6 linked regions of the Homo sapiens genome follow. The protein of the gene in region 2 interacts with the protein of the main gene of each other region in a pairwise test. Each region holds a gene or a part of one and is shown on either strand. Other genes may lie near its edges.

Region 1 (4,927 bases), on a different chromosome or scaffold from region 2:
GAGCTGGAGGCCATTATTCTAAGTAAAGTAACTCCGGAATAGAAAATCAAATTCTGTATGTTCTCAACTGTAAGTGGGAGCTAAGCTATGGATACACAAGGGTATACAGAGTGATATAATGGACTATGGAGACTCAGAAGGGGAAGGAATAAAAAGCTATATATTGGGTACAATGCACACTATTCTGGTGACAGGTGCACTAAAATTTCAGACTTCACCAATATACAATTCATCCATGCAACCAAAAACCACTTGTACCCCAAAAGCTACTGAAATAAAAATAAGCAAATTCATTCCTTAATTAAATGACACATAAAACATAATCAACTAAGATTTTTTAAAGATGAGCAAAACCTTCAAAGACGAGATTGACAGTATTTTAGCATACACAGAAGAGTGGAGAAAAAGAGAATTCTAAATCAAGAGAGAGAAGGATATAATGGGAAATGAAACTGAGATCTGATCTATACAGAATTGGAATATGTCCATTAGAAATGTTTTCAGCTGAAAGTAACAGAATTCTTGGGTAATAGAGCCATAAAGCCTGTGATGGTTAATTTTAGGCATCAACTTGACTGGATTAAGGAATATCTAGAGAACTGGTAAGGCATTATTTTGGGGTGTGTCTGTGAGGGTGTTTCCAGAGGAGATTGGCATGTGAGTTAGCGTGGACTAGGCAGAGAAGATCTGCCCTCAATATGGGCAGGCACCTCCAATCCACTGGAGGCCTGGGTAGAATAAAAACAGAAGAAAGGAGAATTGGCTTCTCTCTCTCCCCTGCAGCAGGGATACACTCTTCTCCAACTGCCCATGGACATTAGGACCCCAGATCCTCTAACCTTGGGACTCCAGGACTTAAAACTATCACTCCCCCATCCCACCCCCAGGTTCTCAGACTTGAAAATTCAGCCTTGGACTGAGAATTACACCATCAGTTTCCCTGGTTCCAAGGCTTTTGGACTTGTACTGAGCCAGACCACCAGCATCCCAAGGTCTCCAGGTTATGAATGGCCTGTGGTGGGGTTTCTCAGCCTCCACAATCACATGAGCCAACTCCCTTAATCCCCTCTCATATCTCTCTCTGTGTCTCTCTCTATCCCTCTCATATCTCTCTCTATGTATCTCTCTATCCCTATTGTTCTGCCTCTCTGGGAAACCCTGACTGATACAGAACTTTAAGAAATAGAGGTTTATTTTCTCAAAATGCTCAAATGCAGATGGTTAATGGCACCATTCAGTGGCTCACAGAAGCAGGTTCTTTCTATTTTTCTGACCTGGCATCTTTAATATGCTGGTTTTTCATGTTTGTACTTTTCATTTCATGTCTGCAAGATTGCTGCCACAGATTCAGACCCTACTGACTAATACTAATACCTTGAACAAGAGAAAAAGAGGTAAAAAGAACTTTCCTTTAAGCAGAGAGGGAAGATTTTTCCCAAGTGTTTCCCAGATTTTCCATTACATTTTATTGGCCAAAACAGGGTCACATGAACACCTCCGAGTAAAGGCTGGTTGGAAAAGTATCTGGACAAGAAGAAAGGAAAGACATGAAAGGCCTAGAACAATTATGATTCATCCCTGGGGCTAGGCATGTAACTGTCTTAAACAACATCAGTGTTCCCTCAGCAAGGAAAAACTGCCACTAGTTGAGCAATTAACAATGACTGCAATCCCATTTTTGAATTTTAATCCAAGTTATAGGAAGCGTTTTAGTGAAAAAAAAAAAAAAAAAAAGGTCCTCAGATGATTCAATGATGCCTCTAGTTTCATAGATTTATTTATCCTGCCCTTTGGTTCTGAAGAGAGCCTTAGTGCTATCCCTGAGCAGTGACAGGCTATCAAAAACTGCCGACTCAGATTCAGATGCAACTGAATTTCTTCCTGAAGCTTTGCAGATATTATTTACCTTCAATTTTCCCTGAAATAAATAGAAAAATAAGGACTCCTGTTTTTTCCCTTGAGAGCTCAAGATGAAGAAATACATAGCAAAGATATGGCAGGAAAGCATGGGCCAGGAAAGGTAAAGAAAAGAATAGGAGAAAAGAGATAAGGCTTAAAATATGTTTATAGTCTCTTCTCTCCCATTCCTTTTGGCATCCAATCCCATAATGACCAACCACAGAATGTACTTCATGCTTTAAACCTTTGGCACTATAGCTTCAGGGTCCTCTTAGGTGACCAAAAATAATCTGAAAAGAAAATTAATTTAAGAGATCGATTAACTACTGGAAAAAGTTTAATAGACACTGAAGAACTAGACTTCGAAAATTAACTGGTCCTAGTTCAGGGATGGAGGAAAGTAGTAATGCAGGGTGACCTCAGCCAACATAGGTCTACAGGTCTACTTTATGGAAGCCTGAATCTCTCAAGACAGAAAGGGATGCTGAGTCTAAGCAAGGCAGATAAAGCATGTTGTATGCCTATGGCCTCTATGCCAAGACCAGGGAACATCCTATTATCCACGGTCTGACAAGATTAGAATGTTATGCTCTGCAGAGGCAGCAGGCTGGGGGTGGGGGAGAGTATGGCACAAAACTGAATATTAAAAAAAAAAAAAACTGAACAGGCAAGCTATAGTAGTTTGTGAGCTAAAGAAAGAAGTATAAACTGCTCTTGGCCCTGATGTCCCTGTTGGTGACCAGATGGTATGTGTGTCTGTGGTAATATACTGGGATTTTCAGGTCTGCTGGGACAAAAGATAAAACCCAATACATTATTTCATGTAAAACATATTCGTAGGAGGGACAGATGGAAAAAAAATGGAGAAAGTAAAAGAAAATAGGAAATTCCAGAGTCAAGTGATGTTACGGGGTTTTAAGAAGAGAAGAAATTAATTGTTCTGGATTTAAAGGCTTCACATACAGAGAAACATCTCCTTCCATATCTGTGCAATTATCTTCTACATCATCCTGCCTAAGAAAAACAGAGCATATAAAAAAAAAATCAGTGTCTCTGGAAATGTTTACTCCATTGTTATCACCGTTATGATCACTCCAGAGCCTCTCACTTGAACGGCTGGCTTAAAAGGTTGCAATGAAGTCCAAGGAGACTAGTTAACATAAAGTAACACCAGCAAGCAGAGAATGGACAAGGTGGCAGGGAGAGGGAGCAGCAAGAGAGACAGACAGAGAGAGAGAGAGAGGGAGAGAGAGAGAGCCCACATAAAACAGCAACAGAATAATTTCCAAAAGACCAGATATAAATTCTTTCCTCCAACCAAAAGTCAATCATTTTCTTCTGTGTGTAAAATAGCACACATTCTTATTCACCACAGCTGTAAGCTTAAGGCCATTCACTCACTACTCTGCTGTAGTCCTATGACACTAGCTATATCATGGCCAACTTACTGCCCCACTTCTGTTTCCAGAAGTCACACACACTAGAGTCAGTTTCATTTCTTTGTAGTTACCCTTTTTGCAACTACAGGGCTATTACAAAGTCACCTGAGGCCACTACTTTAAACAGAAACATAGTACTACAAAGCCCTAGAATCTAAGACAGCCCCCCAATCTGAGGGTCATCTCAGTCCTTGACACTCCTTTCTTTGTTAATTCCACAAGAAGAAGAAATTATAGAGCTGGCACCAATGGTGGCTTCAGCACCAATAGTAAAGGGCTGGAGGCAATTGTAAACATCACCTCCACAATGAAGGTAACCTTATTACTCATCACATTCAAAGTGCAGCCCTAAAGAAAATAATCACTTCTTATTCCTTTTCTTGTATTTTTTTCTTGGCCACTCATTTTCAGCTGAGTGAAGTATTCTACTATGTGAAAATGATTACTAGAAGGAGGTGTTAGGAGAGAGAATGTTTATAAGATATCTTAGTAAGAAATGTATACTTTTGCCTTTGGGAAACAAAGGACAACTTTGTTGCTGTGTCAAACTACTTAATACTCATACAAATAAAAATATGGCTAGGTACCGTGGCTCACACCTGGAATCCCAGAGTCCCGGGAGGCCAACCCAAGAGGATCACTTGAGGCCAGGAGTTTAAGACCAGCCTGGACAACATAGCAACACCTTGTTTCTACAAAAAAAAAATAAATAAAATAAATATTAGCCAGGCATGGTGGCACATGCCTGTTGTCCCAGCTATTAGAGACTGAGGGGAAATAATTGCTTGAACCAAGGAATTTGAGGTTTCAATGAGCTATGATTGCACCACTGTACTCCAACCCGGGCAACAGAGCTAGACCTCAACTCAAAAAATAAAAAAATAAATCACACGGAGAATTTAAGGAATCTCTGGGCTAATAATTTCTCTGCTCCAAAAACAACATTTGGGCCATTGCTCCAGTGGTCAGTTCCCTTCAGTCCCACAAGAAGCTTCCTAATTAGCACCAAGGGAGAGGTTGTGACACAGGCAAGTGGACGAAGCTCCCTGAGAGTAAAGGACATTGCTTTTCATTACCTATGAAATGTAGAGCACACAGAAGCTCAGGGATATGATAAAATATAAGCAGGAAACAATTACGTCAGCATTAACAACTAAATGAAATGTTAGCCTAGATACAATCTACAAGGAGACGAACACTCGAGCACAACAAGAAAATACTGTGTGACATTTGCTCAGTTTGGATTCCATCAAAAACATACATGTTCAGTCTAATAAAAGTTCATTATAAAATCTGAGAGCCAAAAAAATATAAAATTCTAAATTAAATAACAACTGACTAAACAACGAATGAAGGCAAAAAATAAACTAGATATCAACTGAGTGATGACTATGCTTATAGTTCAAGAAAAAAGTTACAGAAGCAAAAGCAGAATTTATGGGAAAATAAAACTAAACCAAAGGTGTTACTTCAAAAATGAGTAATAAAATGGATCCTGAAATTATTTGATGAAAAACTGCTGAGAATTGAATAGATTTGAGACAATCTGTTATCTTGCAAACTCAATCTTTACTCGGTTGCTACTAGTT
Region 2 (4,927 bases):
AAATGAAATAATGCTAGAGAAAATCAGCCCCGGAGAGATAAACACCAAATTGGAAATCAACACACTGGCTCCACATCTTCAAATCCCGCACTCCCTTCTTCCGGGTTGCTGGTAGCTAAGTACTTATGCACACTATTTTCCAGCAAGCGGTATAACATCCTCATCTCTGTTGTGCTTTATTCTTTGTTGTTATTGTTTTTTGAGACGGAGTCTTGTTCTGCTGCCCAGGCTGGAGTGCAGTGACGCGATCTCGGCTCACTGCAAGCTCCGCCTCCCAGGTTCACGCCATTCTCCTGCCTCAGCCTCCCGAGTAGCTGGGACTACAGGCGCCCGCCACCACGCCCGGCTAATTTTTTGTATTTTTAGTAGAGACGGGGTTTCACTGTGTTAGCCAGGATGGTCTTGATCTCCTGACCTCGTGATCCGCCCGCCTCGGCCTCCCAAAGTGCTGGGATTCCAGGCGTGAGCCACCACGCCCGGCCTTGTGCTTTATTCTTTTGTGACCCTGGATTGGGCACAGTACCTAGCATGCAGTAATGCATGTTCAAAAACCAGTTGCATTAATTACATTGAAGAGAGTGATATGGAGTCAAGTTTGAAATCCCCTTTGAAGTGGCTGATGTCAAAAAAAGTTCTAAGCCACGTGTAGTGGCTCACACCTGTAATCCCAGCACCTTGGGAGGCTGAGGCAGGCAGCTCTCTTGAGGTCAGGAATTTGAGACCAGCCTGGCCAACATGATGAAACCTCGTCTCTACAAAAATACAAAAATTAACTGGGCATGGTGGTGCACACCAGTACTCCCAGCTACTTGGAAGGCTGAGGGCTGAGGCAGGAGAATCGCTTGAACCCAGGAGGCAGCAGGTTGCAGTGAGTCAAGATCGCACCACTGCACTCCAGCCTAGGCGACAGAGTGAGACTCTGTCTCAAAAAAAAAAAAAAAAGAAAAGAAAAAGAAAAAAAAACACACAAAACAGGACGGGCACGGTGGCTCACGCCGGTAATCCCAGCACTTTGGGAGGCTGAGCCGGGTAGATTGCCTGAGGTCAGGAGTTCGAGACCAGCCTGACCAACATGGTGAAACCCTGTCTCTACTAAAAATACCAAAAAAAAAAAAAAAAAAAAAAAAAAAAAATTAGCTGGGTGTGGTGGTGGGCACCTGTAATCCCAGCTATTCAGGAGGATGAGGCAGGAGAATCACTCAAACCCCAGAGGCAGAGGTTGCAGTAAGCCGAGATTGAGCCACTGCACTCCAGCCTGGGCAACAGAGCAAGACTCCATTTCAAAAAAAATAAAAATAAAAAAAGTTATCTAAGAGGTCCTCACCCCCCACAACTATAGTCATTCCATGTCCAGTCGGAGTGCCCATGACCACACTGACATTTTCCCCTGGTTTGCTCCCTGAGTGTGGCTCCCGAACACCTGCTCTCCTCAAGGAGGGAGAGACCTGGTAATGCTAAGCTGCCTTCTATCACATAAACCCCTCCTGCAGATCAGAAGGAAGAAAAGGCAGAAAGGATAGGGGGACTCTCTCATGGCTGATTTTTACTGCAGGCACAGAGGAATTTCCCAGTGTAGTCCAAGTGATCTGCACTACAATCTCTGGACTTGAACTCCTGGGCTCCAGCGATCCTCCCCCCGCAGCCTCCTGAGTAGTTGGGACCACAGGTGCACATCCACGCCCAGCTTGAGGAAGGTTATTAAAATACAGAAACCTGGGTTATATTTCTCAATCAGTCTGTCTGCCAATGAGGTCTTAGATTCTACATTTTAGCAAGCACAAGACATTTTAAAGACAACTATAGGCTGGGCGCGGTGGCTCACACCTGTAATCCCAGCACTTTGGGAGGCCAAGGCAGGTGGATCATCTGAAGTCAGGAGTTCGAGACCAGCCTGACCAACATGGCGAAACCCTGTCTCTACTAAAAGTACAAAAATTAGCCAGGCTTGGTGGCACATGCCTGTAATCCCAGTTACTTGGGAGACTGAGGCAGGAGAATCAGGAATTGTTTGAACCTGGGAGGTGGGGGTTGCAGTGAGCCAAGATCGCGCTATCGCACTCCAGCCTGGGCAACAAGAGCAAAACTCCATCTCAAAAAAAAAAAAAAAAAAAAAAAAGACCACTATAGTTTGTGACTCATAGTAACAATTTTAATTGTGTTAGTAATAATAATGTCTTCCTATCAGGAATGCAAGAATCCACACTATCACAGCTAAAAAGAGCTGATCAAGCTTAGAGACGTCGAATGGCAGGAACCTTTGATATATGAACAGTTATGTCGGTTAAACTGCATTTTTGGGGAGCCAGTCATCTGAAAATTCAGCAACAGTCCTACAGTTAATATCTGAAATAATTACCACATTTCACTGTTGTTATAGTGTAAGTTATTTTAAGACTTCCTTATCCAAAGTTTGACAGTTGTACACATGATTACAGTTAGACATCAGCTATTTTATTATTTTGTTTTGTTTTGTTTTATTTATTATGTAGAGATAGGGTCTCACTGTGTCACGCAGGCTGGAGAGCATGCCATTATAGGTTCACTGCAGCCTTCAACTCCTGGGCTCAAGTGATCCTCCCACCTCAGCCTTCCAATAGCAGGGACTACAAGTGCATACCACCATGCCTGGATATTTTTAAATTTTATTTTTAGAGACAGAGCCTCACTATGTTGCCCAGGCCACTCTCAAACTCCTGGCCTCAGAGATCTTCCTCCCTTGGTCTCCTAAAATGCTGGGATTACAGGCATGAGTTACTGCACCCAGCCAACCTTACACATTTTAATGAAACCATTTTTTTTTCTTCTCCCTTACAATTACCAGAATCTGGAGGTTTGTTTATCAACATTGTGTGCATGGCCATAATATTAGGTCCAGTGAAGCACTCCACATATTTCAGAATCTAAGAAAGCAAAAAAAAAACAAAAACAAACCTTGTGGGAAATCAGAAGTATTGACAACTGGTACAAAGTACAGTAGCTATCCACACAAGAACCAAGAAGGCAATAGTTTAAGAACCAAGCGGTATTTCACAACATTGCAAACAAAGCATGAAAAACCCAGCCATTGGAAATCATTCTAAATCTATAACACGGAATGAAATGGGCTTTTTCTGAGCTAGCTGGGAATGAAACCATTTTTTCTCTACAAGAAACATAGGAGTTCCGATGAGATATTAATATAGCTTTCTTGTCAACCCAAGCAACAGAAGGTTGCTCAGTGGGAGGGCAGTTTCCTCTTCCTCATTGGAGCCTCTGCATACGAAGAGTCCCATACAATTCACAGCTGTCATGAATAGCCCGGAAGAAAGCAGAATGGTGGCTTGGAGGACATTTGACAATCGGGGACGCTTGGCACTTGACAACTCATTACTGAGATCTGGGAACCAGGAGGTGACGGGAAATGGGGAAGCAAGAGTGAACAAGCAAAGCAGGTCCCAGGAGTTAGATGAAAAATGTTAACCCAGTAATGACATGGGTCAGAGTGGCCGAGGGACACTGCATTATGAAGAAAAGGCTAACATGGGGAACCGTGACAGGGAGAGCTGGTTTAGTCGTGGGGCCTGGGAGCTGGGCTGCCGCTACCTTGTGTACAGAACCCAGCAACGGAGAGGGAAAAAGCAGAAAGGGCTCAACACTGAGGTCGGGTGCGTTAGCGCACACCTGTAATCCTAGCACTTTGGGTGGCCGAGGCGGGCGGATCACTTGAGGTCAGGAGTTCAAAACCAGCTTGGCCAACATGGCAAAACCATATCTCTACTAAAAATACAAAAATTCGCCGGGCATGGTGGCACACGTCGGTAATCCCAGCTACTTGGGAAGCTGAGGCAGGAGAATCACTTGAACCCAGGAGGCAGAGGTTGCAGTGAGCTGAGATCATACCACTGCAGTCCAGCCTGGGCAACAAGAGTGAGACTCTGTCTCAAAAAAAAAAAAAAAAAAGAAGAAGAAGAAGAAAATAAAACAACCCATGATATTCAAATTTTGATTCTGCAAAAAAAAGACTCCAAAAAATAAGCCACCTTCTACTGCTTCCTCACTTTTTGATCTCTTGTGTATAAGGAATATTGGCAATTTGAGTATGAAACCCTGGAAAGGTTATTAAAAGCCTAGCAGTCAGGCACACACTTGCTTTTTATAAAGCCTGGTATTTTTTTGTATTCATCTAGGCTGGGATTTTCTAAATGCCAGCCATTCAAGAGCCATCCTCACAACTTCTGACATAACTTGTACTGTTATTTAGCCAATGATTTCCCTACCCTTAGTTAGCTCACTTGTTTTTTGTTTTTTGTTTTTGTTTTTGTTTTTTTTGAGATGGAGTCTCGCTCTGTTGCCCAGGCTAGGTGCAATGACATGATCTCGGCTCACTGCAACCTCTGCCTCCCGGGTTTAAGCGATTCTCCTGCCTCAGCCTACTGAGTAGTTGGGATTACAGGCGCCCGCCACCATGCCCAGCTAATTTTTGTATTTTTAGTAGAGACTGGGTTTCACCATGTGTCTCAGGCTGGTCTCAAACTTCTGACCTCGTGATCTGCCCACCTCGGCCTCCCAAAGTGCTGGGATTACAGGCATGAGCCACCGCGCCCGGCAGTTAGCTCACTTCTCTTATTCAATCTTTGTTTTTTTCTTTTTTTCCAATATAGACAATGGTCTCACTATGTTGCCAGACTGGTCTTGAACACCTGGCCTCAAGTGATTCTCCTGTTTCAGCCTTCCAAAGTGCCACTTCGCCTGGCCTTTTTATTTAATCTTGTCCTAATTAACAACATTTTTGAAATCATGAGTTTGGTAGACTGTTGAGTTTTTTTCCAATACATTTAAAAATAAATATCTATTAAAATAATTTATACCTCCTAAAATCATGGCATAGACCACCAGATACTGGTCCCATTCTTCAGAAATGTAGGACACTGGCCAGGCGCAGTGACTC
Region 3 (4,032 bases), on a different chromosome or scaffold from region 2:
TTTCTTCACTATCTATACCTGCTATGCAGAGATTGAGAACCAAACCAAATGGATATCTGCTTTTAAGATTAGAATTTGTTCTTCATCCTTAAAGCAGAACTCATTGAGATGAAAAGATGCTCTTAATTTATCACAGAACTGTGTATTTAATAGTATGCTTATTAAAATCACGAAGTGTACTGGAATGCTAAGATAAAAGAACTGTATAGTTTCTGTTATGTAATACGAGAATAGAAATGTTATTAAAATCTTTCTATAATTTCCAGTGCTTCTGTTTTGAAGAACAAAGGCTTAATCCCCAAGAGGAAGTAGATATGCCAGTGTTTTTCTACATTGATCCTGAATTTGCTGAAGATCCAAGAATGATTAAAGTTGATCTTATCACTCTTTCTTACACTTTTTTTGAAGCAAAGGAAGGGCACAAGTTGCCAGTTCCAGGATATAATTGAAGTCAGCAACTAAGTCTTCCTTCAAAGTTGTGATTTTTGGGAAAATCATATATCCTATCTTCTCAAAGGAGAAATATTGTACAATAATATGAAGGCTTATATTTTAAATAATTATTTTTTCTCAACTAATTTTTTTCACTTAAACTTGAGAGAACAAGTTCAGCTTTTATCATAAGAAACTCATATGCCTAGCTAGAATATATGACTGACTATTCAATACCATACTGAAGAGTTTGATACTATTAAAATAAGCCGCTTTGTTTTTTAAATATGCAGGCATGGGTTCAGCTTAATTCCATAATTCCCTTCCAGATTATTAACTCTTCATACTTACAGCAATGAATCTGACAATGTTTTTCAAAAATGTATGCTCAGGGTTATTTGTTTCAAGTCATAGGCCAGAACTTCTAACCATGTTTATTGTGTCTAAAAGAGTTGGTTGCTATTTTCCTTCATTATGAATAGTCAGTATTTTAAAAGCTCAAAGTAGAAGAGGAGTCACTAAGCCCTAACAGCTTGTCCAAAGATTTAAATTCTTATTTCAAATTTGATTTGTCCTTTAAGGTTTAGGGCTATTTTATATTCAGAGTTCTGAATAATTACTTTGAAACTGTAGTATCATAAAATTGAAATAAAATACATCTACTAGGCTGTTAGCCAAAGCATCACCATTACAAGTCCATGAATGTTAAAATGTACAGGTGGGATTGTGAAGATTTACTGACATCAAAAGTTCTTCTGGAAACAAACCTTTGTTAAAAAAAAAAAGTATTAAATTGTTTTAATAGTGATTTATTTGTCATCAAATGTACAACTTATTCTAAATATTTTCATTTTCTGTGTTCTAAATAGAAATATTAAGTTGCAGTAAAAAGAGAAAAAAAGGCTATTTAGCATTACAAAGAATCATATTTAAAGGCTGCCCAATGTAGAGTCTAGTGACCTGTTCAGGACACCTGAAATATAATTAAATGACAATTATCAAGGTTTTAACAATTTATAATTCTAAACCAGAGGATTATAAAGAAGTGCAAATTGACTTTTACATTCAACTTTAGTTAAATGAAGGCACTCAGTATTCTTCCTGAATAATACATTCAGTTTCTCACATTTTATGCTTTCATCTATTCAGAATTATTTCATAGTAAAATAATCTACTCTTATCACAGCTGTGTGACGATTTCTAAATGTAGGAAGGCCTGTGAAACATGACACTGCAGTTAAATTGGTTGGCCTAAGGACTAAGTAATTTTTCTTCTGCTGAAGTTTTAAGTGAGTATTTGTTCCAAACAAGTTCTGTTGAAATCTCACGCTGTTGTCAGGAATCAGTGTTATCCTGGAACTGTTATTCTATTTAATCTTCATTATAGCAGAAATGTGCCACCATGGCTTTGACATGTTGGTAGGTATTGTCTTCCAGGCTTCAAAGCTGCACAGAGTCTACGTTTTAGAGAGTTGGCACCTTTGATGTGGTAGTGAGCTGATCATCCACTTTCTTCTAAAATAAAGAGAAGAAAATGGCCAGTATTCATCCTGTCCTTCTCTTTCCCCATTCCTTGATAACTCTCTTGTCTTTACTGGGAAGCTGGAGAGTCACAGTCTAGTAGAAGAAAGGTAAGAATGTGCTTCTTCCATAGGGGAGGGTATAAGGGGAATAAATAAGTTTTGATAGTTCATTGGTGACCATTAAATAGTAAATACATGGGATTAGTAGTGCTGAAAATAGGAAAAATTCAGACCTATTTGGAGGACTAACGGTAAATGGGTCTACTGGTACCGGTTAACAAGTATTAACTGCATATGAAAAACAAATGCCTGATTTCAGTGCTACTCCTATTGCTCATCTATTTTGTTAGCATTAATATTTCTATACCATAAACTACTGTATTCCCAAGCCTTACTATTTACAGATGAGAAAATCACAAAGAATGACTCTCATTAGTGAACAATGGTTCAGCACAATTTGAATGATTCAGGGGAACTCATATTTCAAAGTGTCAGACTCAGATGGCCCTTAGAAAATTTAAATACTAAATATGTAAAGTGATAATTATACTGAAATTATATGGAATATGGAATTAAGTTGTATAAGTTGAAGTCTTTACCTCAGTCACCATCATTTTGAGCTCCTTTGTGCTGGTGAGCATCAATTTCTTCATAAATAGCTCTGAAACAAAGCCATCACAGCAAAAGGGTTATGTATCAATTTCAAAGTGCTATTTTGGTTTTTAACTGCCAGCACTGTAATTAAAAATTGAGCTGGTTTTGGAGTTCAGGCTACATATGAGTAAAAATAAGTCTCTGCCCTGAAGTGTGTATTCTAGTTTATTTAAATTCTAATGTTGCACTTCATTTTTTCTTTTTTTTTGAGACAGAGTCTCACTCTTTTGTCCAGGCTGGAGTGCAATGGTGCTTTCTTGGCTCACTGCAACCTCTGCCTCCCAGGTTCAAGTGATTCTCCTGCCTCAGCCCCACGAGTAGCTGGGATTACAGGGACACACAACCATGCCCAGCTAATTTTTTTGTATTTTAAGTAGAGACAGGGTTTCACCCTGTTGGCCAGGCTGGTTTCAAACTCCTGACCTCAGGTGATCCACCCGCCTCGGCCTCCCAAAGTGCTGGGATTACAGGTGTGAGCCACCACACCCGGCCTTATTGTTGCAATTCCTATGTCTCTTAAAAGTATGTATTTCATAGAACCAATTAATTTTTTCTTGTGATTGAAATGAGAAATATGACTCAAATTTGGACAGTTTATGTTTTGCTTAAAAAACTCCTCAGTTTCTTCTGGTTTCAAACTTTTTAAAAAAATATTAGGACAAGTGCAGTGGCTCACACCTATAATCCCAGCACTCTGGGAGGCTGAGGTGGGTGGATCGCTTGAGTCCAGGATTTCAAGACCAGTATGAACAACATGGCAAAATACCATCTCTACAAAAAACATAAAAATTATCATGTGTGGTGGTACACACCTGTAGTCCCAGGTACTCAGGAAGCTGAGGTCGGAGGATCACTGGAGCCTAGGAGGCGGAGATTGCAGTGAGCTGAGATCGTGCCACTGCACTCCAGCCTGGGCTACAGAGCAAGACTTTCGTCTCAAAAAAAAAAAAAAAAAATTAATCTTCCAGCTTATTTAAACTATGTGATTACAGTCCAGACTCCTCAGCCATCTATAGCTCATCACTGTCATTTCTGTACTTTTTTTATATTGTATTTTTTCAATGACATCCTTCATTCGTTTTTCTTTTTTCTTTTTTTTGAGACAGGGTCACTGTCACCCAGGCTGGAGTGCAGTGGTGCAATCATGGCTTATTGCAGCTTCGACCTCCCAGGTTCAAGTGATCCTTCCACTTCAGCCTCTCAAAATGTTGGGATTAGAGGCATAAGCCACCATGCCAGGCCCATTCAATTCTTTATATGCGTCTTACATATGTCTGTAGCTGGAAAATATACCTGAAAGCACAACATTCATATATACAGTATAGCAAAACATGGCTGAGGAAAAATCTCAAAAATCACAGCGCTATGAAACCATGATCACCAAGTTCATAAGGCCCCAGAATGGTGCTACAATTTTAATGTT
Region 4 (4,927 bases), about 99 Mb from region 2:
CTTTCCAACCACACTACCTGCGTTTTTGAAAGGCTGACATGGCTCTTGGTTCTCAAATCAGCCTCAAAATAGCCTGAAAAGCCTGGAGTCCACTCACAGAAGAGCAGACCTCCTCCGGTATGCACCATGCTGACAGCACCACCTTACACACTCAGGTGTGCAAAAACCGGCGCGGGGGACATCTCACACCTTATGTAGATCAAATGCTCCTTCCCTGATCCTCTGTAGGGAACTTCCTTTTCTCTAATCCTAGATCTTTTCAAAAATTCTAACCAAAATAAAATTTAAAAAGAAGACAATGTCTTGTGTCAGCTCAGAATTAAGGGCAGATAGATAGTAAGCTCCTAGCTGTGATGTCACTAGACTCACACACCCCCATGAAGGCAGGAGCAAGTACTATCCTCCCTGGACACATGCAGACTTAGCAGAGGAAGACTCTGCAGGAAATGAGGGGCCATGCCATGATTAGGGCTCCCATGAGCCAACTCCTTGCCTGCACCTCTCACACCGGAGAAAGAACAGTAAATACTGTGTAGCTGCCTTTGGAATAAACATGTGATAGCAAGTCAGGACCCCCTTGCCACATACTGCTAGGAACACAGAACACTCACCTGTACAATCCTCTCAAACATATGAGCCAGAGGGAGGTAGGATATGGCCACATCATCAGGAGTGGGCTCATAAGCATGCTATGTAGGCCAGGGAAGTAAGAGGAGGCAACATGAGATTAATGCCAACTTTCAATTCCAATGGAGATTTTAAAACTACCTCCTCCCAGGACTACCACAGACAGCTGTATAGGCGGTACACTGTGTAGATCTGAGATGCCTTGAACTGCATATAGTGTAGAAATTTGCAGTGATCCTAAAAGACCAACGCTTGAAAATGTACAGTCCTCTAAACAAAGAACACGCTGGTGTTTGTCCACACTCCAGCCTTTAACGTGTGTGTGTGTGTGTGTGTATGTGTGTGTGTGTGTCTGCCTGCTCTAACCTCAAAAATAAAAATCTTATGACAGATTCACATTTTAATGAGAGCCTCTTTTTCAACTGACCACTGACCTCCACACATTTGAGAAAGGCAGCAGCATTTGAAACAATATTTTGATGGGTTATCATGGCTCCTTTGGGGTCACCTGTAGGAAATAAGAGGTGGAGAGAAAGATACTTTATGTAGCTAATAGGTAGCCTTTGGCCTTGAAAGAAACTAGATTCAATTGGTTTTATTCCAGAAGGCCAAGAGCATTTCCTGTCACTGTGTCTTTTTGTGGATGGTATATGCCTCTGTTTAGGAATAATTAATGCCCCCGGAGATTCTACTGCTGAATGCATCGTTGGCCTTCTACTACTATGCAGAGCACAGCCATGATTTCAGATAGAAGCACAGCTGCAAAGAAAAATTCAAGTTAACCCTCCTTGTCCCTCTGCCCCACATCTCATGCTGTTTATATGTTTGGAATTCCAGATCTACCAATATTATATAGTGATATGGTTATAAACCTTATAAACTGGGCATACTAGAAAGAATATAACTGTAGACCATGATGGACCACATTAAAAACTATTAAGCATTCTAACAGATGGGTGGATGTAGGGTGGGGTTGAAGCCCTTTATGGAGAACTATCACTGAGTTATCTTGATTGAATGAAACCATTCCAGCGGTGTCAAATCAAGAGAGTGGTGGGTTGGTGGGGGCGGGGGAAAGGACTTTCTGACATCATCTTTAAGACCCCTGAAATCTATTGAATATAAACACCTCCCAATATATTAAATAAAGTGTATTTACTTATGTTTATGTTTTTCCATTTGGGAATTCACACTTAGAAGCCTTAGGCTGTGAGCCCCTAAGTATAGGGCTCTTTAGAGGGAGTATTTACCAGCCTACCAGTGGCCAAGAATTGAAGCCATGTTCTTGGCTGACCAGGGGTCTAAGGTTCAGTTTCATGGGCACAGACCTGTGGTCCCACTGGTGAAGCAGATGACGCTCAGGTCTTCTGGGCTAGGAGGCTGGAGGAGGAAGCACAAGGGCTTATTCCACCATGAACTTTGAGAGTTGACTATGGCAAGGCTCAAATTCAGGCAGAAGAAAACTTACCACAGGTTTTCTGAAGTGCTCTTTGCCTAGGTTCTATGTGAATGGAAAACCAAGAAAGAAAGACATTAGTTGAGATGGACAGACTGTGATAAATGTGGCCCTCTCCCTCCCTTTCCCGTGAGAACATCTCTATGGGAATATAAGCAAAATTCCAACCTGGATCAGGACCAGAAGCCAACATTCAGGAACAATGGAAGCCCCAGGGAAGAGCATAAGATTTCTCTAGAAAATCATCTACCTATAGAGGGTAGATTGCATGTTCAAACTTCCCATTGTACTCTTAAGTTTCAGTCATCTAGGGCCCTAACTAAATCTTTTTTGAAAGAAATGAATAGCTAACATTTTCAGAGCTTATTACATATCCATCACTGTCCTGAGAAATCTACATATATGAATTAAGCTAACTCTTTACAAGACCTCTGTGAGGTAGTGATTATTTTTATCACCATTTTACGGACCGAGAGAAGGGAGATGAGATTGCCCAAGGTTGCCTAACAGATGTGGAGCTGGCATGCGAACCCAAGCAGCCTGGCTCCAGGAGCCACATCCTTTAACTATTACTAAACCCCTATTTATATATTATCCACTTAGAAGTCCATACAGCTGGCCACAGAACTTTGTCCTCTCCTGGCATGAGTTTCAAAGTTGTCTTGTGGAAATTATTCTCAGAGCTTCACAGCATGAGTCTAATCTACTCCTCACGTGCCACCCCTGGAGAACAAGAACACTGTCCTCTTGGGAAGGTATCTTGCAAGTTGCCCAAGGTGTTGGACAAGCATTGGAGCTGCAAGCTAAATTTCAGATCCATACCTCAGCATCATATAGGGATAAGATCTCAATTCCACTCTTCTCCCCTCTTTGCTTCAGGTCATCATCAAAGGGGTCCATAAGGATGATCACCTTCAGGCTCGGGGTGAAGCCTTTCTCTACATTCCCTATCAGCACCAATGCCTTTTGGGGTGTGTCACAGATCACCATGGCGATATCAGCTGGAAGCCAAAATAGAACCAGAGGTCATTCCCTCTCTCTGCTAAGTACCTGATTGCCTTGCAAGAAGGAAGAGGTTTTAAAAGTTTTCAAAGCTAACAGGTGTCCAAAGGAGATTACACCTGCAAATCAGATTTATAATGTACAACCTGAAACATTCCATTGATGATAAATGAACTTAACTGAAACAGAAGCACATGTTCTTGAACTGTGCCAGCAGATTTTACAGTTTCTAGAGGAACCACAGAATTCCTTCTGCTTAAGAAGTCATTCAGATAACCTAAACAGGTTACTGAGGTGTGGTTCTATCACTGTTTTATTTGAGGAGGATAGTAGGGAATAGAAGAAAAAGAAGGGGGCAAATAGGATTTTTAGCTGACAAGTATTTTACAATTCTAAATTTTAGCATTTGCTTTGATGCATGTTTAAAGTTTCAAATGATGTTTACTGTGCAAATGGACTTACTCACTTAATCTACTAGTCCCATGACAGAAGGTAACATGTTGGATATGTGAAAGGGCTGTTACTTGCCCATCAAATTTGGACTTGTTTCTCTAACAACGACAATTATTTTCTGCAGACTCACCATGGACATTGGTACATGCTGGTTAACTGTATTGACTTGGATTTACAAAGGTAGGAAATTAAATCTGTAGCTTTACTGTGATTAAGTCAATTAAGCTCACTCTCTGGGCTTTTATCTAGTGTGTTCAGAGTGAGTAGTCTTGTCTCTATATCATCATACCATGTCACCCTGACGCATGTCATTGAAACTTCTTTCTGTGTGTATCTCTGCTTCATGGGCTTTTTGTAGCTTTCCTGAAAATTATATCCTAAGTACTACAAAACTAGAAAGACTTGAACATTTTCCGACCACAGCATTTCAAGTTTGCTTAAACAAACAAACAAATAAACAAAAAAGCAGAAATTGAAGAAATACTCAGCATTGAGAAAGAATCAAGTTGTAATGTAACAGCAAAATTTTACCCTTGTTGACAATATGTACGATGGCTTCTGGTCCCAAGGTGTCATACAGAGGTACAGCTACCATAGAGTACGTGTAACAAGCCAATTCGGAGATGATCCACTGTACAGAGAGAAGTTCAAGTAAGGACTGGAGGGCACACTGAAGAGTACCAGTTCAGTCATTCAGCCAACAAATGCTGTCTGGTTTTTTGTCTTGTTTTGTTTTGCTTTTTTTTTTTTTTTTGAGACAGTGCCTCACTCTGCTGCCCAGGCTGGAGTGCAGTGGTGTGATCATAGCTCACTGCAGCCTCAACCTTCCAGGATCAAGCAATCCTCCCACCTCAGCCTCCTGAGTAGCTGGAACTACAGGCACACATCACTATGTCAAGCTAATTTTTGTATTTTTTGTAGAGACGGGATTTCACCATGTTTCCCATTCTGGCATAAAACTCCTAGGCTCAACCTATCTGCCTACCTGGGCCTCCCAAAGTGCTGGGATTACTTATTTGTTGACTTTTATGTAAAAAAAAAAATCACTGTGGGGCCATAGGGACAGTTGTAAATACTGCTATAAAGTACAATTAAATAAGGGAGATAAGAAAGGCACAGGGACAACTGCAATACAAAGGTAGACCAGAATACAAAGGCAGAGTGTGATAAGTTCCATCCGTAAGAGGTATGGAAGGCATTAGGAGCCTTAGGGTGTCAGAGATCACTTTCAAGGGTGAGGAAAGCTATTTGGGACTGCTTGTGGGAAACTGATGAAAACTGGGCAGGGCTTTAGAGGACTAGTAGGATTTGGTTATGGAGGTAGAGGTAGATTAAAAGAAGGAAGTGAATGAACAAAGAATAGTGATATGGTTTGGCTGTGTCCCCATC
Region 5 (4,927 bases), on a different chromosome or scaffold from region 2:
CAGAGCTCCAGAGCGGCCTGAGTGCTCTCCCCAGACCGGGGGCTTGTCACCCACAGGGGTTGGGCCTCCTGTCACTGCCCCGTGTCAGCACTTTGGCAAGGCTCGAGTGGGCTGCTTGAACGAGCAGGTGAGCCGGCTGCTCCATTAGGTCGGGGCGCTGCGGCAGAAGCGGCCCTTCCTGTCTTCTCGCCCATGCTGCCTTCCCCAGCGGCCCAGGGCTAGAAGTGGCAACAGGGCATATGGCCACCCAGAGTAGAGATTACGCTTCCCAGGTGGCCTTGTGATGAGGTGTGAGCATGAGACTAAGTTGTGGCCAATGAGATATAACTGTAAGTATTCAATATGGCGGCTTCTGGAACCTTCCTTAAAAGAAGGCACATACCTTTTGCCCCTTCCCTTCTACTTCCTCCATCCTACAGCCTGGGACATGATGTGAGGGCTGCAGCAGCCCTCCTGGATCATGAGGTGACTTTGGGAACGGAGGCCAAACACAGCAGAGTGACCTGGTAGAAAATCCTCGAGCCCTGGGGCCTTCACAGAGCAGGGCCAGCCCTGGCAACCGTGGCCTGGCTCTCTTGGGACCTAACAGCTCAGTAGGATAAACTCACAGATGATCTTAGCCACTATTGCGGGGAGGCCCGTTCTGTTCCTCGCAGCTCAACTCCATCCTAATGGCTCATGCTGGCCGGCCACAGGCCCTGGGCATTCAGGCTGCCACAGAGGCGGGAGGGGCCACGTGCTCCCAGGCTGAGGGCAGCAGGAGCAAGAGGCAGGGCCGGGCCAGGGGCTGCTCCACTGCCATTGCCACCTGTGTCCCCGCTTCCTCCACAGGCAGGTGACAACACCCCGGCCATTTCCTGCAGGAGCCACTTCTTCTCATGTTGCCACCGAGGGAGGGCTTGGTGCCCGTGCCCTTGAACCGTGAAGGGGAGCCCCAGCAAGGCGAGGTCCTTGCCCAGGGCCATCTCGCACCCAGCAGTGCAGGCTGGAAGCAGAACCCAGAGGCTCAGAATTCAAAGACAGAACTGAACACTCCATCTACTGTGTCCCTGTAGCTGCAGCCCCCTCTCCTCCTCCGCTCTTCCGGCCCGACAGACACTGTGGACAAGCAGTATTCCTTGATAAGCCCAGGACAAGACAACAGCTCAGTCTGGCCTCCTTTTCAGTGAACTCATCTCTGAATCCACCTGACTCTGCTGGCCCCAGCCCCCTCCAAGCGTCTGCACAAACCTCTTGACAGTAGCCATCACTGCACACATGTGCCTGCCCCTCCCAGGCTGCCCCTGCCCACCACCCCATGGTCCTTCCAAGAGCGTCTGATCCTGCTCAGGGAAAGCCTAGGCTCCCGCCTGGTCCCGAGGGCCCTCTGTGAGCCAGCCTCTCGCACCACCAAGCCTTCGGAACGCACTCCGCCCTGCTGCCCCTGGCTTCCGGACGGGGTAACCACTCAGCATTCTGCAGGGCTCAGCTCAGACCTCTTTTCTCTGGGAGAGGGTATCCTGGGTCCCCCAGTGAGGTGCACATCCCTGCTAGGTGCCCCCTTCCCTAGAGCACCTGGGGCCATCTGTGTGGTGTTGGTCCTCCCTGGTAGCAGCCTCTGCCCCGCCCCGTGGCACCTGGCACTTTAGACTCTGGATGTTGAGGTAATCTTCACTCCCTGGAGGCCAAGGGAGAGGCCAGGGTGGGACAAAGGGTGGCTGCCAGCCCCAGGCCTCCTACCTCCCTCCCGCTGCAGGATGTGGTGCAGGTGCACGACGTCCAGGATGGCTTCCAGGTCCTGCTCCGAGTAGCCCTTCCTTTGCATGTCCTCCACTGAGTCCGGGTAGATCACCTGGTCACGCAGGGAGCCCACAGACATGTAGGGCCTGTGGGAAAGCTGGGTGTCCACGGAGGGAAGGGCCGGCTCTGCCTCCCCCAAGATACTCTGCGCCTCCCAGGCAGTGTCCACATGCCACGCTCACACGCATCCACACGCTCACATCGCCGCCCGTGCACACACCCCACACAGATCCAAAACAGGGCAGTGGATCGGGCGGGTTTGGAGGGAGCAGGAACCACAGCCCGTCTCTGGCTCTGGGGACAGTGCCTCAGTGTCCTCTCCTGAGGTGCTGACTCTTCACCACTTCCTGGGCCTCTGCAGGAAGCCATGTGTGAGCGCACAGGCAGGAAGAGGTGGAGGAGAGGCGCACGGGCTTCCTTACCTCTGCGGGATGTAGAACATGCGCTGGGGTGGGGGCTTGTAGAGCACACCACCGTACGTGGGCCAGAGCCCACCCAGGATCCGGAACAGGGAGCTCTTGCCGCAGCCATTGGGGCCTGTGATGAGCAGATGCATGCCTTCCTCCACCTGCAGGGGCAACAGCCGCTGACGCCAGAGAGCGCAGGCCCCTTCCCGTACCCTATGGCCTCCTGACCAGCCTTGAGAGGCTCCCAATGCCCGAGGCCAGCACGCAGGCCATTCTTGATCTCTTGATAAGGGACAGCAGGGCCTGGGGGATGGGGTCCAGCGTCCACAGCCCTAGCTAAATTTGGCTCTCGCTAAATGCCTGGCCCAGGACACAGGAATGGACAAGCCCCGGCCCAGTCCTCAGGCCCTGACACGCCTGGAGAACATGGTGCCAGCACAAGAGGAAGGGCCTATTCTGCCACAGCTGAATGAGTAGGTGTGTTCCAACACAGCCAGCGCCGTCCTCAGTCCCATCCGACTCCCACTTCACCAGGAATCCAAGTGCAGGGTCAACTGTCAGCCCCCTTTAAGGAACTGCCCTGAAAGGCACTTTGTTTTCAAGAGACGAGACCTCACTCTGTTGCCCAGGCTGGAGTGCAGCGGTATGATCACAGCTCACCGCAGTCTCCAACTCCTGGGCTCAAGTGATCCTCCCACCTCAGCCTCCTGAGTAGCTGGGCCTACAGATGCACGCCACCATGCCTGGCTAATTTTTAAATGTTGTTTTAGAGACAGGGTCTTGCTATGTTACTCAGGCTGGTCTCAAACTCTTGGCCTCAAGCGACTCTCTCACCTTGGCCTCCTGAGTCACTGGGGACAAAAGGCAGTTTCTTTCTTTTCTTTTTGAGACGGGGCCTTGCTCTGTTGCCCAGGCTGGAGTGCAGTGGTGGGATCATGGCTCACTGCAGGCTCAACCTCCTGGGCTCAAGAGACCCTCTCACTTTAGCCTTTTTTTTCAAGTGGCTAGAACTACAGGCACCGCCACCACACTTGGCTTATTTGTGTATTTTTAAAAATTTCTGTAGAGACGGGGTTTGCCATGTTGCCCAGGCTGGTCTTGAACTCCTGGGCTTAAGCGATCTGCCCACCTCGGCCTCCCAAAGTGCTGGGATGACAGGCATGAGCGACCACGCCCGGCCCAAAAAGCACTTTCTTTATGTCTCTAGACTGACAGTACAGACCCCACTGCCTCCCCAGGTGCCAGAGTGGCCCAGAGATGCCACAGTGGCCCCTGGGCTCTGCATCATGGACCTCAGGCTCCTCAATTCACTGACTCCATGGTCCTCGCTGGAGCTAGGAAATGCCTACTTTGGGAAAATGCCGGCCAGGCTGGAGGCGGGCTGTGTGCAGGGAGGAGGCCAGGGGCCTGGAGTCAGTGAAGTTCACGGTAACAACAACAATGCTACACGGGGCTCCTGGGAAGACTTGAGGCCGTGGTCTTTAGCTTACCTCAGGCAGTGTCATGGGTGGAACTCTGTCCTCTGAAATTCCTATGTGGGAACCCTAATCCCCACTACCTCGGAGTGTGAGCTTATTTGGAAACAGGGTCATTGCGGACGTGATGAGTTAGGTCTGCATGAGGTCATTCTGCAGAGGGGTGGGCCCTAATGCAGTGTGACCTGTGTCCTGACAGAAAGGGGAGACGGAGACACGGACACACCCAGAGGGAGAGCGCCGTGTGGAGACAGAGGCTGAGGCCGACCTGCCGTGGCAGAAGCCAGGGAAGCCCGCAGATGGGCAGCAGAGCAGAAGCTGGGACAGAGGCCCCGAGCGGAGGCACCTTCTCGGTCCTTGGCAGAAGCCCGCCCTGCCTGCGCCTTCCTCTCGGACTGCTATTCCCCGAGCCGGGAGAGAGGCCATCTCTGCTGGGAAAGCCACTCAAAGTTTGTAACGCTTTGTGACCGCAGCCACAGGATGCTAATGAAGCCACCTGACTGTCCCCTCCTGAAGGGTGGGGCCTGGGCCTTGCCCCATCTCGCATACCCGGCTCCCTGAGCATATGTGGCCCTGCGCGCAGGGGCCCCATGAGCTTGCCCGCTGCCCCTGCCTGCTTGTGCTGCCCGGGGCCAGCCTGGAAACCACCTTCCTTGGACTCACTGGTGATCAGCTCCCCCGACATCCTAGGAGGGGCCGCTGCGAGCGGTGAGGGGTAACCACCTGTGCCGGCCCCCTCCTCCCTGGCATGCCCCTCCTCTCTGCTTCCTCCTGCGTGACCTGCCCCTCAGGCCCACGGCCCCTCACTCCTCTACCCTCAGCTGCCTGCCCACTCGCTCACAGCAACTCCTGGGCAAGGCTTCATCCCACCCCCACCACCCCCAGGGACTCTGACCACTCTTCTTGTGACCCCCACTGTCCCTTGAACAGCTGTCTACCTGGAGACCCTTTGTAACACTTTAGTGCCCCTCCACAGTGAAGACTCCCTGAGTGCAGGTCTCCTGATTTACCTCGGGTTTCTGGTGCCCGGCTCAGAGTTCAGGGCACATTGGTTAAATGAGTGAATGAATGAGTGATTCCTTGTCACTTCTCTACCTGTCCCTCCACCCCAGTCTCCCCCTCACTCCATTACTCCCCAGCCCTGTCCAAACCCCTGGCTGGGGACACAGGTGATCTGTGGATTCCTTGCTGTGGCCTTCCGAGGGAGGTCGAGCGGCAAGGTTTGAACCAGAGCCCCCCCACCCGGGTCTTGGCTTTCTTAGGAGT
Region 6 (5,508 bases), about 12 Mb from region 2:
CTTGGCCTCCATGTCCTTCTCTATATTTCACTGATATCTAGAGCCCTTTCTGTTGCTTCTAATTTGCCTTAATCAGATGTAATCATCTATTCCTAGAGTTTATTCTTAACCTCCTACCTGCAGCATTATAGGTCATCAACTGTCATTCTTAAAGTTGTCATAACCTCTCTTAAGAAAATTCTCCGCATATAGCCTAATCAAAATGTCTTCCTTCCTTTCCTTTATAATGTTTTTTGTGTGCTTTATGTGTCAGAACCTTGTACCCAGATCAACCTAGCAAAGGGTTTCCCTCCTTTTTTATCCCCTAGAACATTTTACAGAGAATGACAATTCCTTCCTTGAAATTTTGATAACATTTGCCTCTAAAGCTTTCAGTGCTTAGTTTGGTGGTGACGATCCCAACATGTTAAACTGCACAGATTCTGGGGGCTCAGCTGCATCTGCAGCCACATTGCCTTGGGCAGGTAATTTACCTCTCTGTGCTTCAGTTCCTTATCGATGCTGTGATAATAAAAAATAACGCTTATCTCAGAAAGCTGTCGTGAGGACCAAATGAATTAATATACATTAAACTCTTAAAATAGAAACTGGCACAAAGGAAGGACACAATGTGTGTCTGGCTGTCTTACTATTATTATTATTACTATTAGAGTTGTTGGATTATAATAGGTACGGTATTGTATATTAGTTTCTTCCTCAAAGCCTAATTCATAGACTTATTTATTATTTTTTAGATCTTTAAAAGAGTATCATTCTCCCATTCTTACTCTTCTGACTGCAAAAGAAACAAGTTTCAAACAGACCATTTATTCCTGAGTCTCAGAACTGATTTCCAGGGAAAACATTTCAGGCATAGCCTTTTGATTTTCTACGTAACTAAAAATTACATGCATAAAGGTGAACTTATGGAAAGACAAAAGAGCAAAACACATTAATCTTTTTATAGAATATTACCCATCACTGCTGCTGTGTTATTTTTGTTCTGTATTATCCGTGCCAAAGTCAGCGGAGTCATGCGTCCATCGTGCTTCTCTCCTCATATTCCCTGAGAGAACCGACAGATATGGCAAACATTTTTTTGATATTTTAAGAGACCCTACTTGCAAAACTATTTGGCCTAGAGCTTTAGTTGGTAGATGATATTTGGAATATGATAGGCAAGAAATTATACAGTTTTTTAGCTCTTCCAAACACATTGGTTTCCAAGGTCTTGCATTTATTTATCGATTTTCAGCTATCCTAAGAATTTATTCAGTAATTTTAGTCACAATGTTTATTATTTTTCTCTTCCATTTGCCACCTTTATTTTTTCTTTTTAAAATCTGGGATGATATATACAGCAAGTGAATTAAAAAGATGCCATCGAACGGCGCCGTGGCTCACACCTGTAATCCCAGCACTTTGGGAGGCCGAGGCGGGCGGATCACCTGAGGTCAGGAGATGGAGACCAGCCTGGCCAACATGGTGAAACCTCGTCTCTACTAAAAATACAAAAAAATTAGCTGGGCGTGATGGCGGGCGCCTGTAATCTCAGCTACTCGGGATGCTGAGGCAGGAGAATCGCCCGAACCCGGGAGGCAGAGGTTGCAGTCAGCCGAGATCACGCCACTGCACTCTGGCCTGGGCAACAGAGCTAGACATCACCTTAAAAAAAAAAAAAAAAAGAAAGCCATAGAGTAGAAAATAACTTACCCTAGGTTTAAAAACTAAAAGCATTTTTTAAAGTGAGATTGTGTCAAAACAATTTTCTATTATCCCTCAATTGAGAGGGAGAAAGATAGAGAGAAAGAGATGGAGAGATAGAGAGAGACCGGGGTGTGTTTTCTTGTTAAGAATACAAAAATATCAGATTGCCTTAGCTGATATCTTTCTACATCCCCAGGGTATAAAAGGGCCCTGGTTCAACTTGCACATTGAGTTCCACATCTGATACCCAGGAGTCTCCAGCTTCCAAGAGAGGTTAGTGCATATGTTTTACCTTGTGGGAATTCTTTCTTTTATGATCTAAATTTGTACATATTCAGTAATTGTTTTCTCTGCATTTCTATTGTATCTCATGTCCATGCATTAAGTCAAACAGCCTTTTGCAAAGAGGAGGAGCAGATTGCTGAAAATATTAACAGTAATGATAATGGACAGACGTGAATGCATTTTTTTAAAAAGTAGAAAAGGATGATGAGAAGGTTTTACATGAAGATAAATGACCCTGAAAACATTTTTTTTTTTTTTTTTTGAGACAGAGTCTCACTCTGTCTGCCCAGGCTGGAGAGCAATGGCACGATCTCGGCTCACTGCAACCTCTGCTTCCCAGGTTCAAGTGATTCTCCTGCCTCAGCCTCCTGAGTAGCTGGGAATACAGGCATGTGCCACCAGGCCTGGCTAATTTTTGTATTTTTTAGTAGAGAGAGGGTTCCACCATGTTGGCCAGGCTGGTCTCAAACTCTTGACCTCAAGTGATCCTCCCACCTCGGCCTCCCAAAGTACTGGGATTACAGACGTGAGCCACCGCTCCTGGCCCTGAAAACATTTTGTGAGAAGATCTTCACCTAAGAATCTGCTTGGCTCTGAAGAGGACCATAGCCCTTCTGTGGGTGACGTAGCTTTCCTACAAGGCTGTGTGTTTCTCCACGTCTGATCCAGGTCCAGTGGTTTTGCACAGGGCTGCACTTTTCCCCAAAAACTTGTACAAAGAGTGTTACCTACAGTTTACCTCGGTGTGTTTTGTGTGTGTGTGTGTGTGTGTGTGTGTGTGTGTGTGTGTGTGGTGGGGCGGGGATTCTTTAACTCGTCACTAAAGGAAACCTGGAAAACATGAGGAGTATGTATGTACCCAAGATTTCCCGTTCAGAGAGACACCACATTAGAAACAGATGATTCACCTTCCATATCTCAGAACTGTGCTGCTTCAACACAATTGCTGTCACTTGTAGAGAAGGTGTATGCTAAATCCTAATGTGGTTGGTAACACATAGCAAAAACGAGATGGCAATATCTTTCACATAAAGAGGCATTTGTGTGCATCTATTTCAGGTCGGGTCACAGCCAGCAGCTATGTCTGACATAAATCTTGACTGGGTTGACAGGCGTCAGTTGCAGCGCTTGGAGGAAATGCTGATTGTTGTGGATGAGAATGATAAGGTTATTGGTGCCGACACCAAGAGGAATTGCCATCTGAACGAAAACATTGAGAAAGGTAGCCCCCGCCCATTTTCTCTGTCCAGTTCCCAGGGTTTTCCCATTTTTCCCACCCGACGGCAACCTAAGAAGAGAGTCTAGGCCTTTCCGGCTAGGAGGCGACCACTGGGTCACCTGTGTGCTTGCTGTGCCGTCTTTAGAAGGCTCGGGGAGCAGCACCTGGATGACGTCTTTGCTTGGTCAAGCCCTTGTCAGGCTCCTGCACCTTCTCCTAGGCATCCGTGCTCTTCCTCGTAAGATCCTGTTTCAGCAAGAATTCTACCAGGTTGTTTTAGCGAGAACCCTGACCTTGGCATCTGATTAAATTCCTCAACCCCGTCCCTCCCAGGTGACGTCTGATCACGCAGGCCTGTCTTCAGCAGGTCTTGTTAGGTCGGTGTAGCCAGAACCCCCTTCCCACTGATGTTTTCTCTTAGTAACTTTTAATCCATAGGCCCCAGCCTGCTCCTTGGGTGTTGTGTGCAGTTAGGCTGGTTCTCCATGGAGGTCTCTTTCCCCTATTGAAATGGTTCTCAGTAAAGTCAGACTTTCCTGCTTTAACTCCTGTCCAGCTCTGGTTTTCTTTGACCATCTTAAGCCATTTTATTATTTTTTAATTTTCATTTTTGTGTCTTTTTTATAAACACATAATAATTATGCATATTAATGGGGTACATGTGATAGTTTGATACCACCATGTCATGCATAATGATCAAATAGGGCATTTTGGGATATCCATCACCTCAAACATTCATCATATCTTTGTGTTGGGAACATTCCAAATCCTCTGTTCTAGCCACATTGAAACATATAATACACTGTTGTTAACTACAGTCACCCTACTGTGCTATTGAACAGCTGATATTATTCCTTCTCTATCGCGGTATGTTTATACTTATTAACCACCCTCTCGTCATCCCTCCCCACTGCCCTTCGCAGCCTCTGGTGTCTAGCATTGTGTTTTCTGCCTCCATGAGATCAACTTCTTTAGAGCCCACATAGCAGTGAGAACATGTGATACTTGTTTTTCTGTGCCAGGTTTGTTCCACTTAACACAATGGCCTCCAGTTCCATCCATGTTGCTACAAATGACAGGATTTCATTCTTCTTTTTTTTTTTTTTTTTGAGACAGAGTCTTGCTCCATTGCCCAGGCTGGAGTGCAGTGGTGCAATCTCAGGTCACTGCCAGCTCTGCCTCCTGGGTTCATGCCATTCTCCTGCCTCAGCCTCCCGAGTAGCTTGGACTACAGGCACCTGCCACCACGCCCAGCTAATTTTTTTGTATTTTTAGTAGAGACGGGGTTTCACCATGTTAGCCAGGGTGGTCTCGATCTTCTGACCTCGTGATCCGCCCACTTCAGCCTCCCAAAGTGCTGAGATTACAGGCGTGAGCCACCGCACCCGGCCCGATTTCATTCTTCTTTTGTGGTGGAATGGTATGCCACTGTGTATCTAACCCTCATGTTTTCAACCCTTCAAACCTCCACGGACACAGGTTGATCTCATATCTTGGCTGTCGTAAATGGTGCTCAGCACCCAGGAATGCTGCGATATCTCTCTGATAGACTGATCTCTTTTATTTTGGATATTTGCCCTGGTAGTGGGATTTCTGGGTCATCTGGTAGATCTATTTTTAGTTTCCCGAGTGTTCTAATCCGCTGAGATTCTGAAACGTTGTGTTTGGGCATCCAGCAGTCCCCTTTGCCCTGCCCAGGTGCCACAATCACAGGCTTTTCTACGAGAAACAGACTGAGGACAAAAAGCACGAAGGACAATCGTACAGACTCCAGGCATGCACTCACACAAATGGCACTTACCTTTGCAGGGCTGCTGCACCGAGCCTTCAGCGTTGTCTTGTTTAACACCAAGAATCGAATCCTGATACAGCAGAGGTCGGACACGAAAGTCACGTTTCCTGGTGAGTCCGTTCAACCAAGCCCCGGACTGAAGAGAGCATCTCATGTGACTTGACCGGAGGAATCTGGGACAGGAACTCTCTGGTGCTCAGTGCCGCACTGTGGTGAGCTGGCAGCTCATCCTGCAGAAAATCGGCAGCTTAGGCAGATGCTAATTATGCTGATAGCTCTTCAGTAGGCTGGGTTTTCTTTTTTAAAAAAGTAAGAAACTATATGAGTTTCTGGGTTTTTTTGTTTTGTTGTTTCTTTGCAACGGCAAGTTACTTAAATGCAGAGGAATTTATCAACCTAAGGATTTAGGGGATTAAAATAGCATTTAGCATAAAATTAACTAGGTAATAATAATAAAAATTATCTTACAGGTCTTAGAGTTTTAATTATCTTGTACTTCTTAAAATTACAACTTAAAATTTTTTTT

The links.
Region 1: the proteins of PHYH (region 2) and TMEM135 come close enough for resonance energy transfer, tested with the Homo sapiens proteins (one large-scale study listed by BioGRID).
Region 3: the proteins of PHYH (region 2) and TOM1L1 interact in a two-hybrid assay, tested with the Homo sapiens proteins (one large-scale study listed by BioGRID and IntAct).
Region 4: the proteins of PHYH (region 2) and ACSL5 come close enough for resonance energy transfer, tested with the Homo sapiens proteins (one large-scale study listed by BioGRID).
Region 5: the proteins of PHYH (region 2) and ABCD1 come close enough for resonance energy transfer, tested with the Homo sapiens proteins (one large-scale study listed by BioGRID).
Region 6: the proteins of PHYH (region 2) and IDI2 come close enough for resonance energy transfer, tested with the Homo sapiens proteins (one large-scale study listed by BioGRID).

The regions. Positions count from the first base shown.
Region 1 is NC_000011.10:87,323,719-87,328,645, reverse strand, and holds part of TMEM135 (transmembrane protein 135), read right to left. Parts: 3' UTR 1-4,927.
Region 2 is NC_000010.11:13,289,013-13,293,939, forward strand, and holds part of PHYH (phytanoyl-CoA dioxygenase, peroxisomal isoform a precursor), read right to left. Parts: intron 2,901-4,927; coding exon 2,819-2,900; coding exon of another isoform or gene 2,813-2,818; intron 1-2,812. UniProt on the Homo sapiens protein: Catalyzes the 2-hydroxylation of not only racemic phytanoyl-CoA and the isomers of 3-methylhexadecanoyl-CoA, but also a variety of other mono-branched 3-methylacyl-CoA esters (with a chain length of at least seven carbon atoms) and straight-chain acyl-CoA esters (with a chain length longer than four carbon atoms).
Region 3 is NC_000017.11:54,959,150-54,963,181, reverse strand, and holds the end of TOM1L1 (TOM1-like protein 1), read right to left. Parts: exon of another isoform or gene 2,617-4,032; coding exon 2,556-2,616; 3' UTR 2,555-2,555; exon of another isoform or gene 1,948-2,554; 3' UTR 1,918-1,947; coding exon of another isoform or gene 1,856-1,917; 3' UTR 1,226-1,855; downstream 1-1,225. Other genes in the region: COX11 (cytochrome c oxidase assembly protein COX11, mitochondrial), read left to right, coding at 267-449. UniProt on the Homo sapiens protein: Probable adapter protein involved in signaling pathways. Interacts with the SH2 and SH3 domains of various signaling proteins when it is phosphorylated. May promote FYN activation, possibly by disrupting intramolecular SH3-dependent interactions.
Region 4 is NC_000010.11:112,407,664-112,412,590, reverse strand, and holds part of ACSL5 (long-chain-fatty-acid--CoA ligase 5), read right to left. Parts: intron 4,170-4,927; coding exon 4,070-4,169; intron 3,085-4,069; coding exon 2,906-3,084; intron 2,129-2,905; coding exon 2,096-2,128; intron 2,008-2,095; coding exon 1,956-2,007; intron 1,136-1,955; coding exon 1,062-1,135; intron 690-1,061; coding exon 612-689; intron 1-611. UniProt on the Homo sapiens protein: Catalyzes the conversion of long-chain fatty acids to their active form acyl-CoAs for both synthesis of cellular lipids, and degradation via beta-oxidation.
Region 5 is NC_000023.11:153,737,512-153,742,438, reverse strand, and holds part of ABCD1 (ATP-binding cassette sub-family D member 1), read right to left. Parts: exon of another isoform or gene 3,861-4,927; intron 2,348-3,860; coding exon 2,202-2,347; intron 1,866-2,201; coding exon 1,720-1,865; intron 1-1,719. UniProt on the Homo sapiens protein: ATP-dependent transporter of the ATP-binding cassette (ABC) family involved in the transport of very long chain fatty acid (VLCFA)-CoA from the cytosol to the peroxisome lumen.
Region 6 is NC_000010.11:1,022,267-1,027,774, reverse strand, and holds the start of IDI2 (isopentenyl-diphosphate delta-isomerase 2), read left to right. Parts: upstream 1-1,915; 5' UTR 1,916-1,959; intron 1,960-3,030; 5' UTR 3,031-3,051; coding exon 3,052-3,193; intron 3,194-4,991; exon of another isoform or gene 4,992-4,999; coding exon 5,000-5,092; exon of another isoform or gene 5,093-5,138; intron 5,139-5,508. UniProt on the Homo sapiens protein: Catalyzes the 1,3-allylic rearrangement of the homoallylic substrate isopentenyl (IPP) to its highly electrophilic allylic isomer, dimethylallyl diphosphate (DMAPP).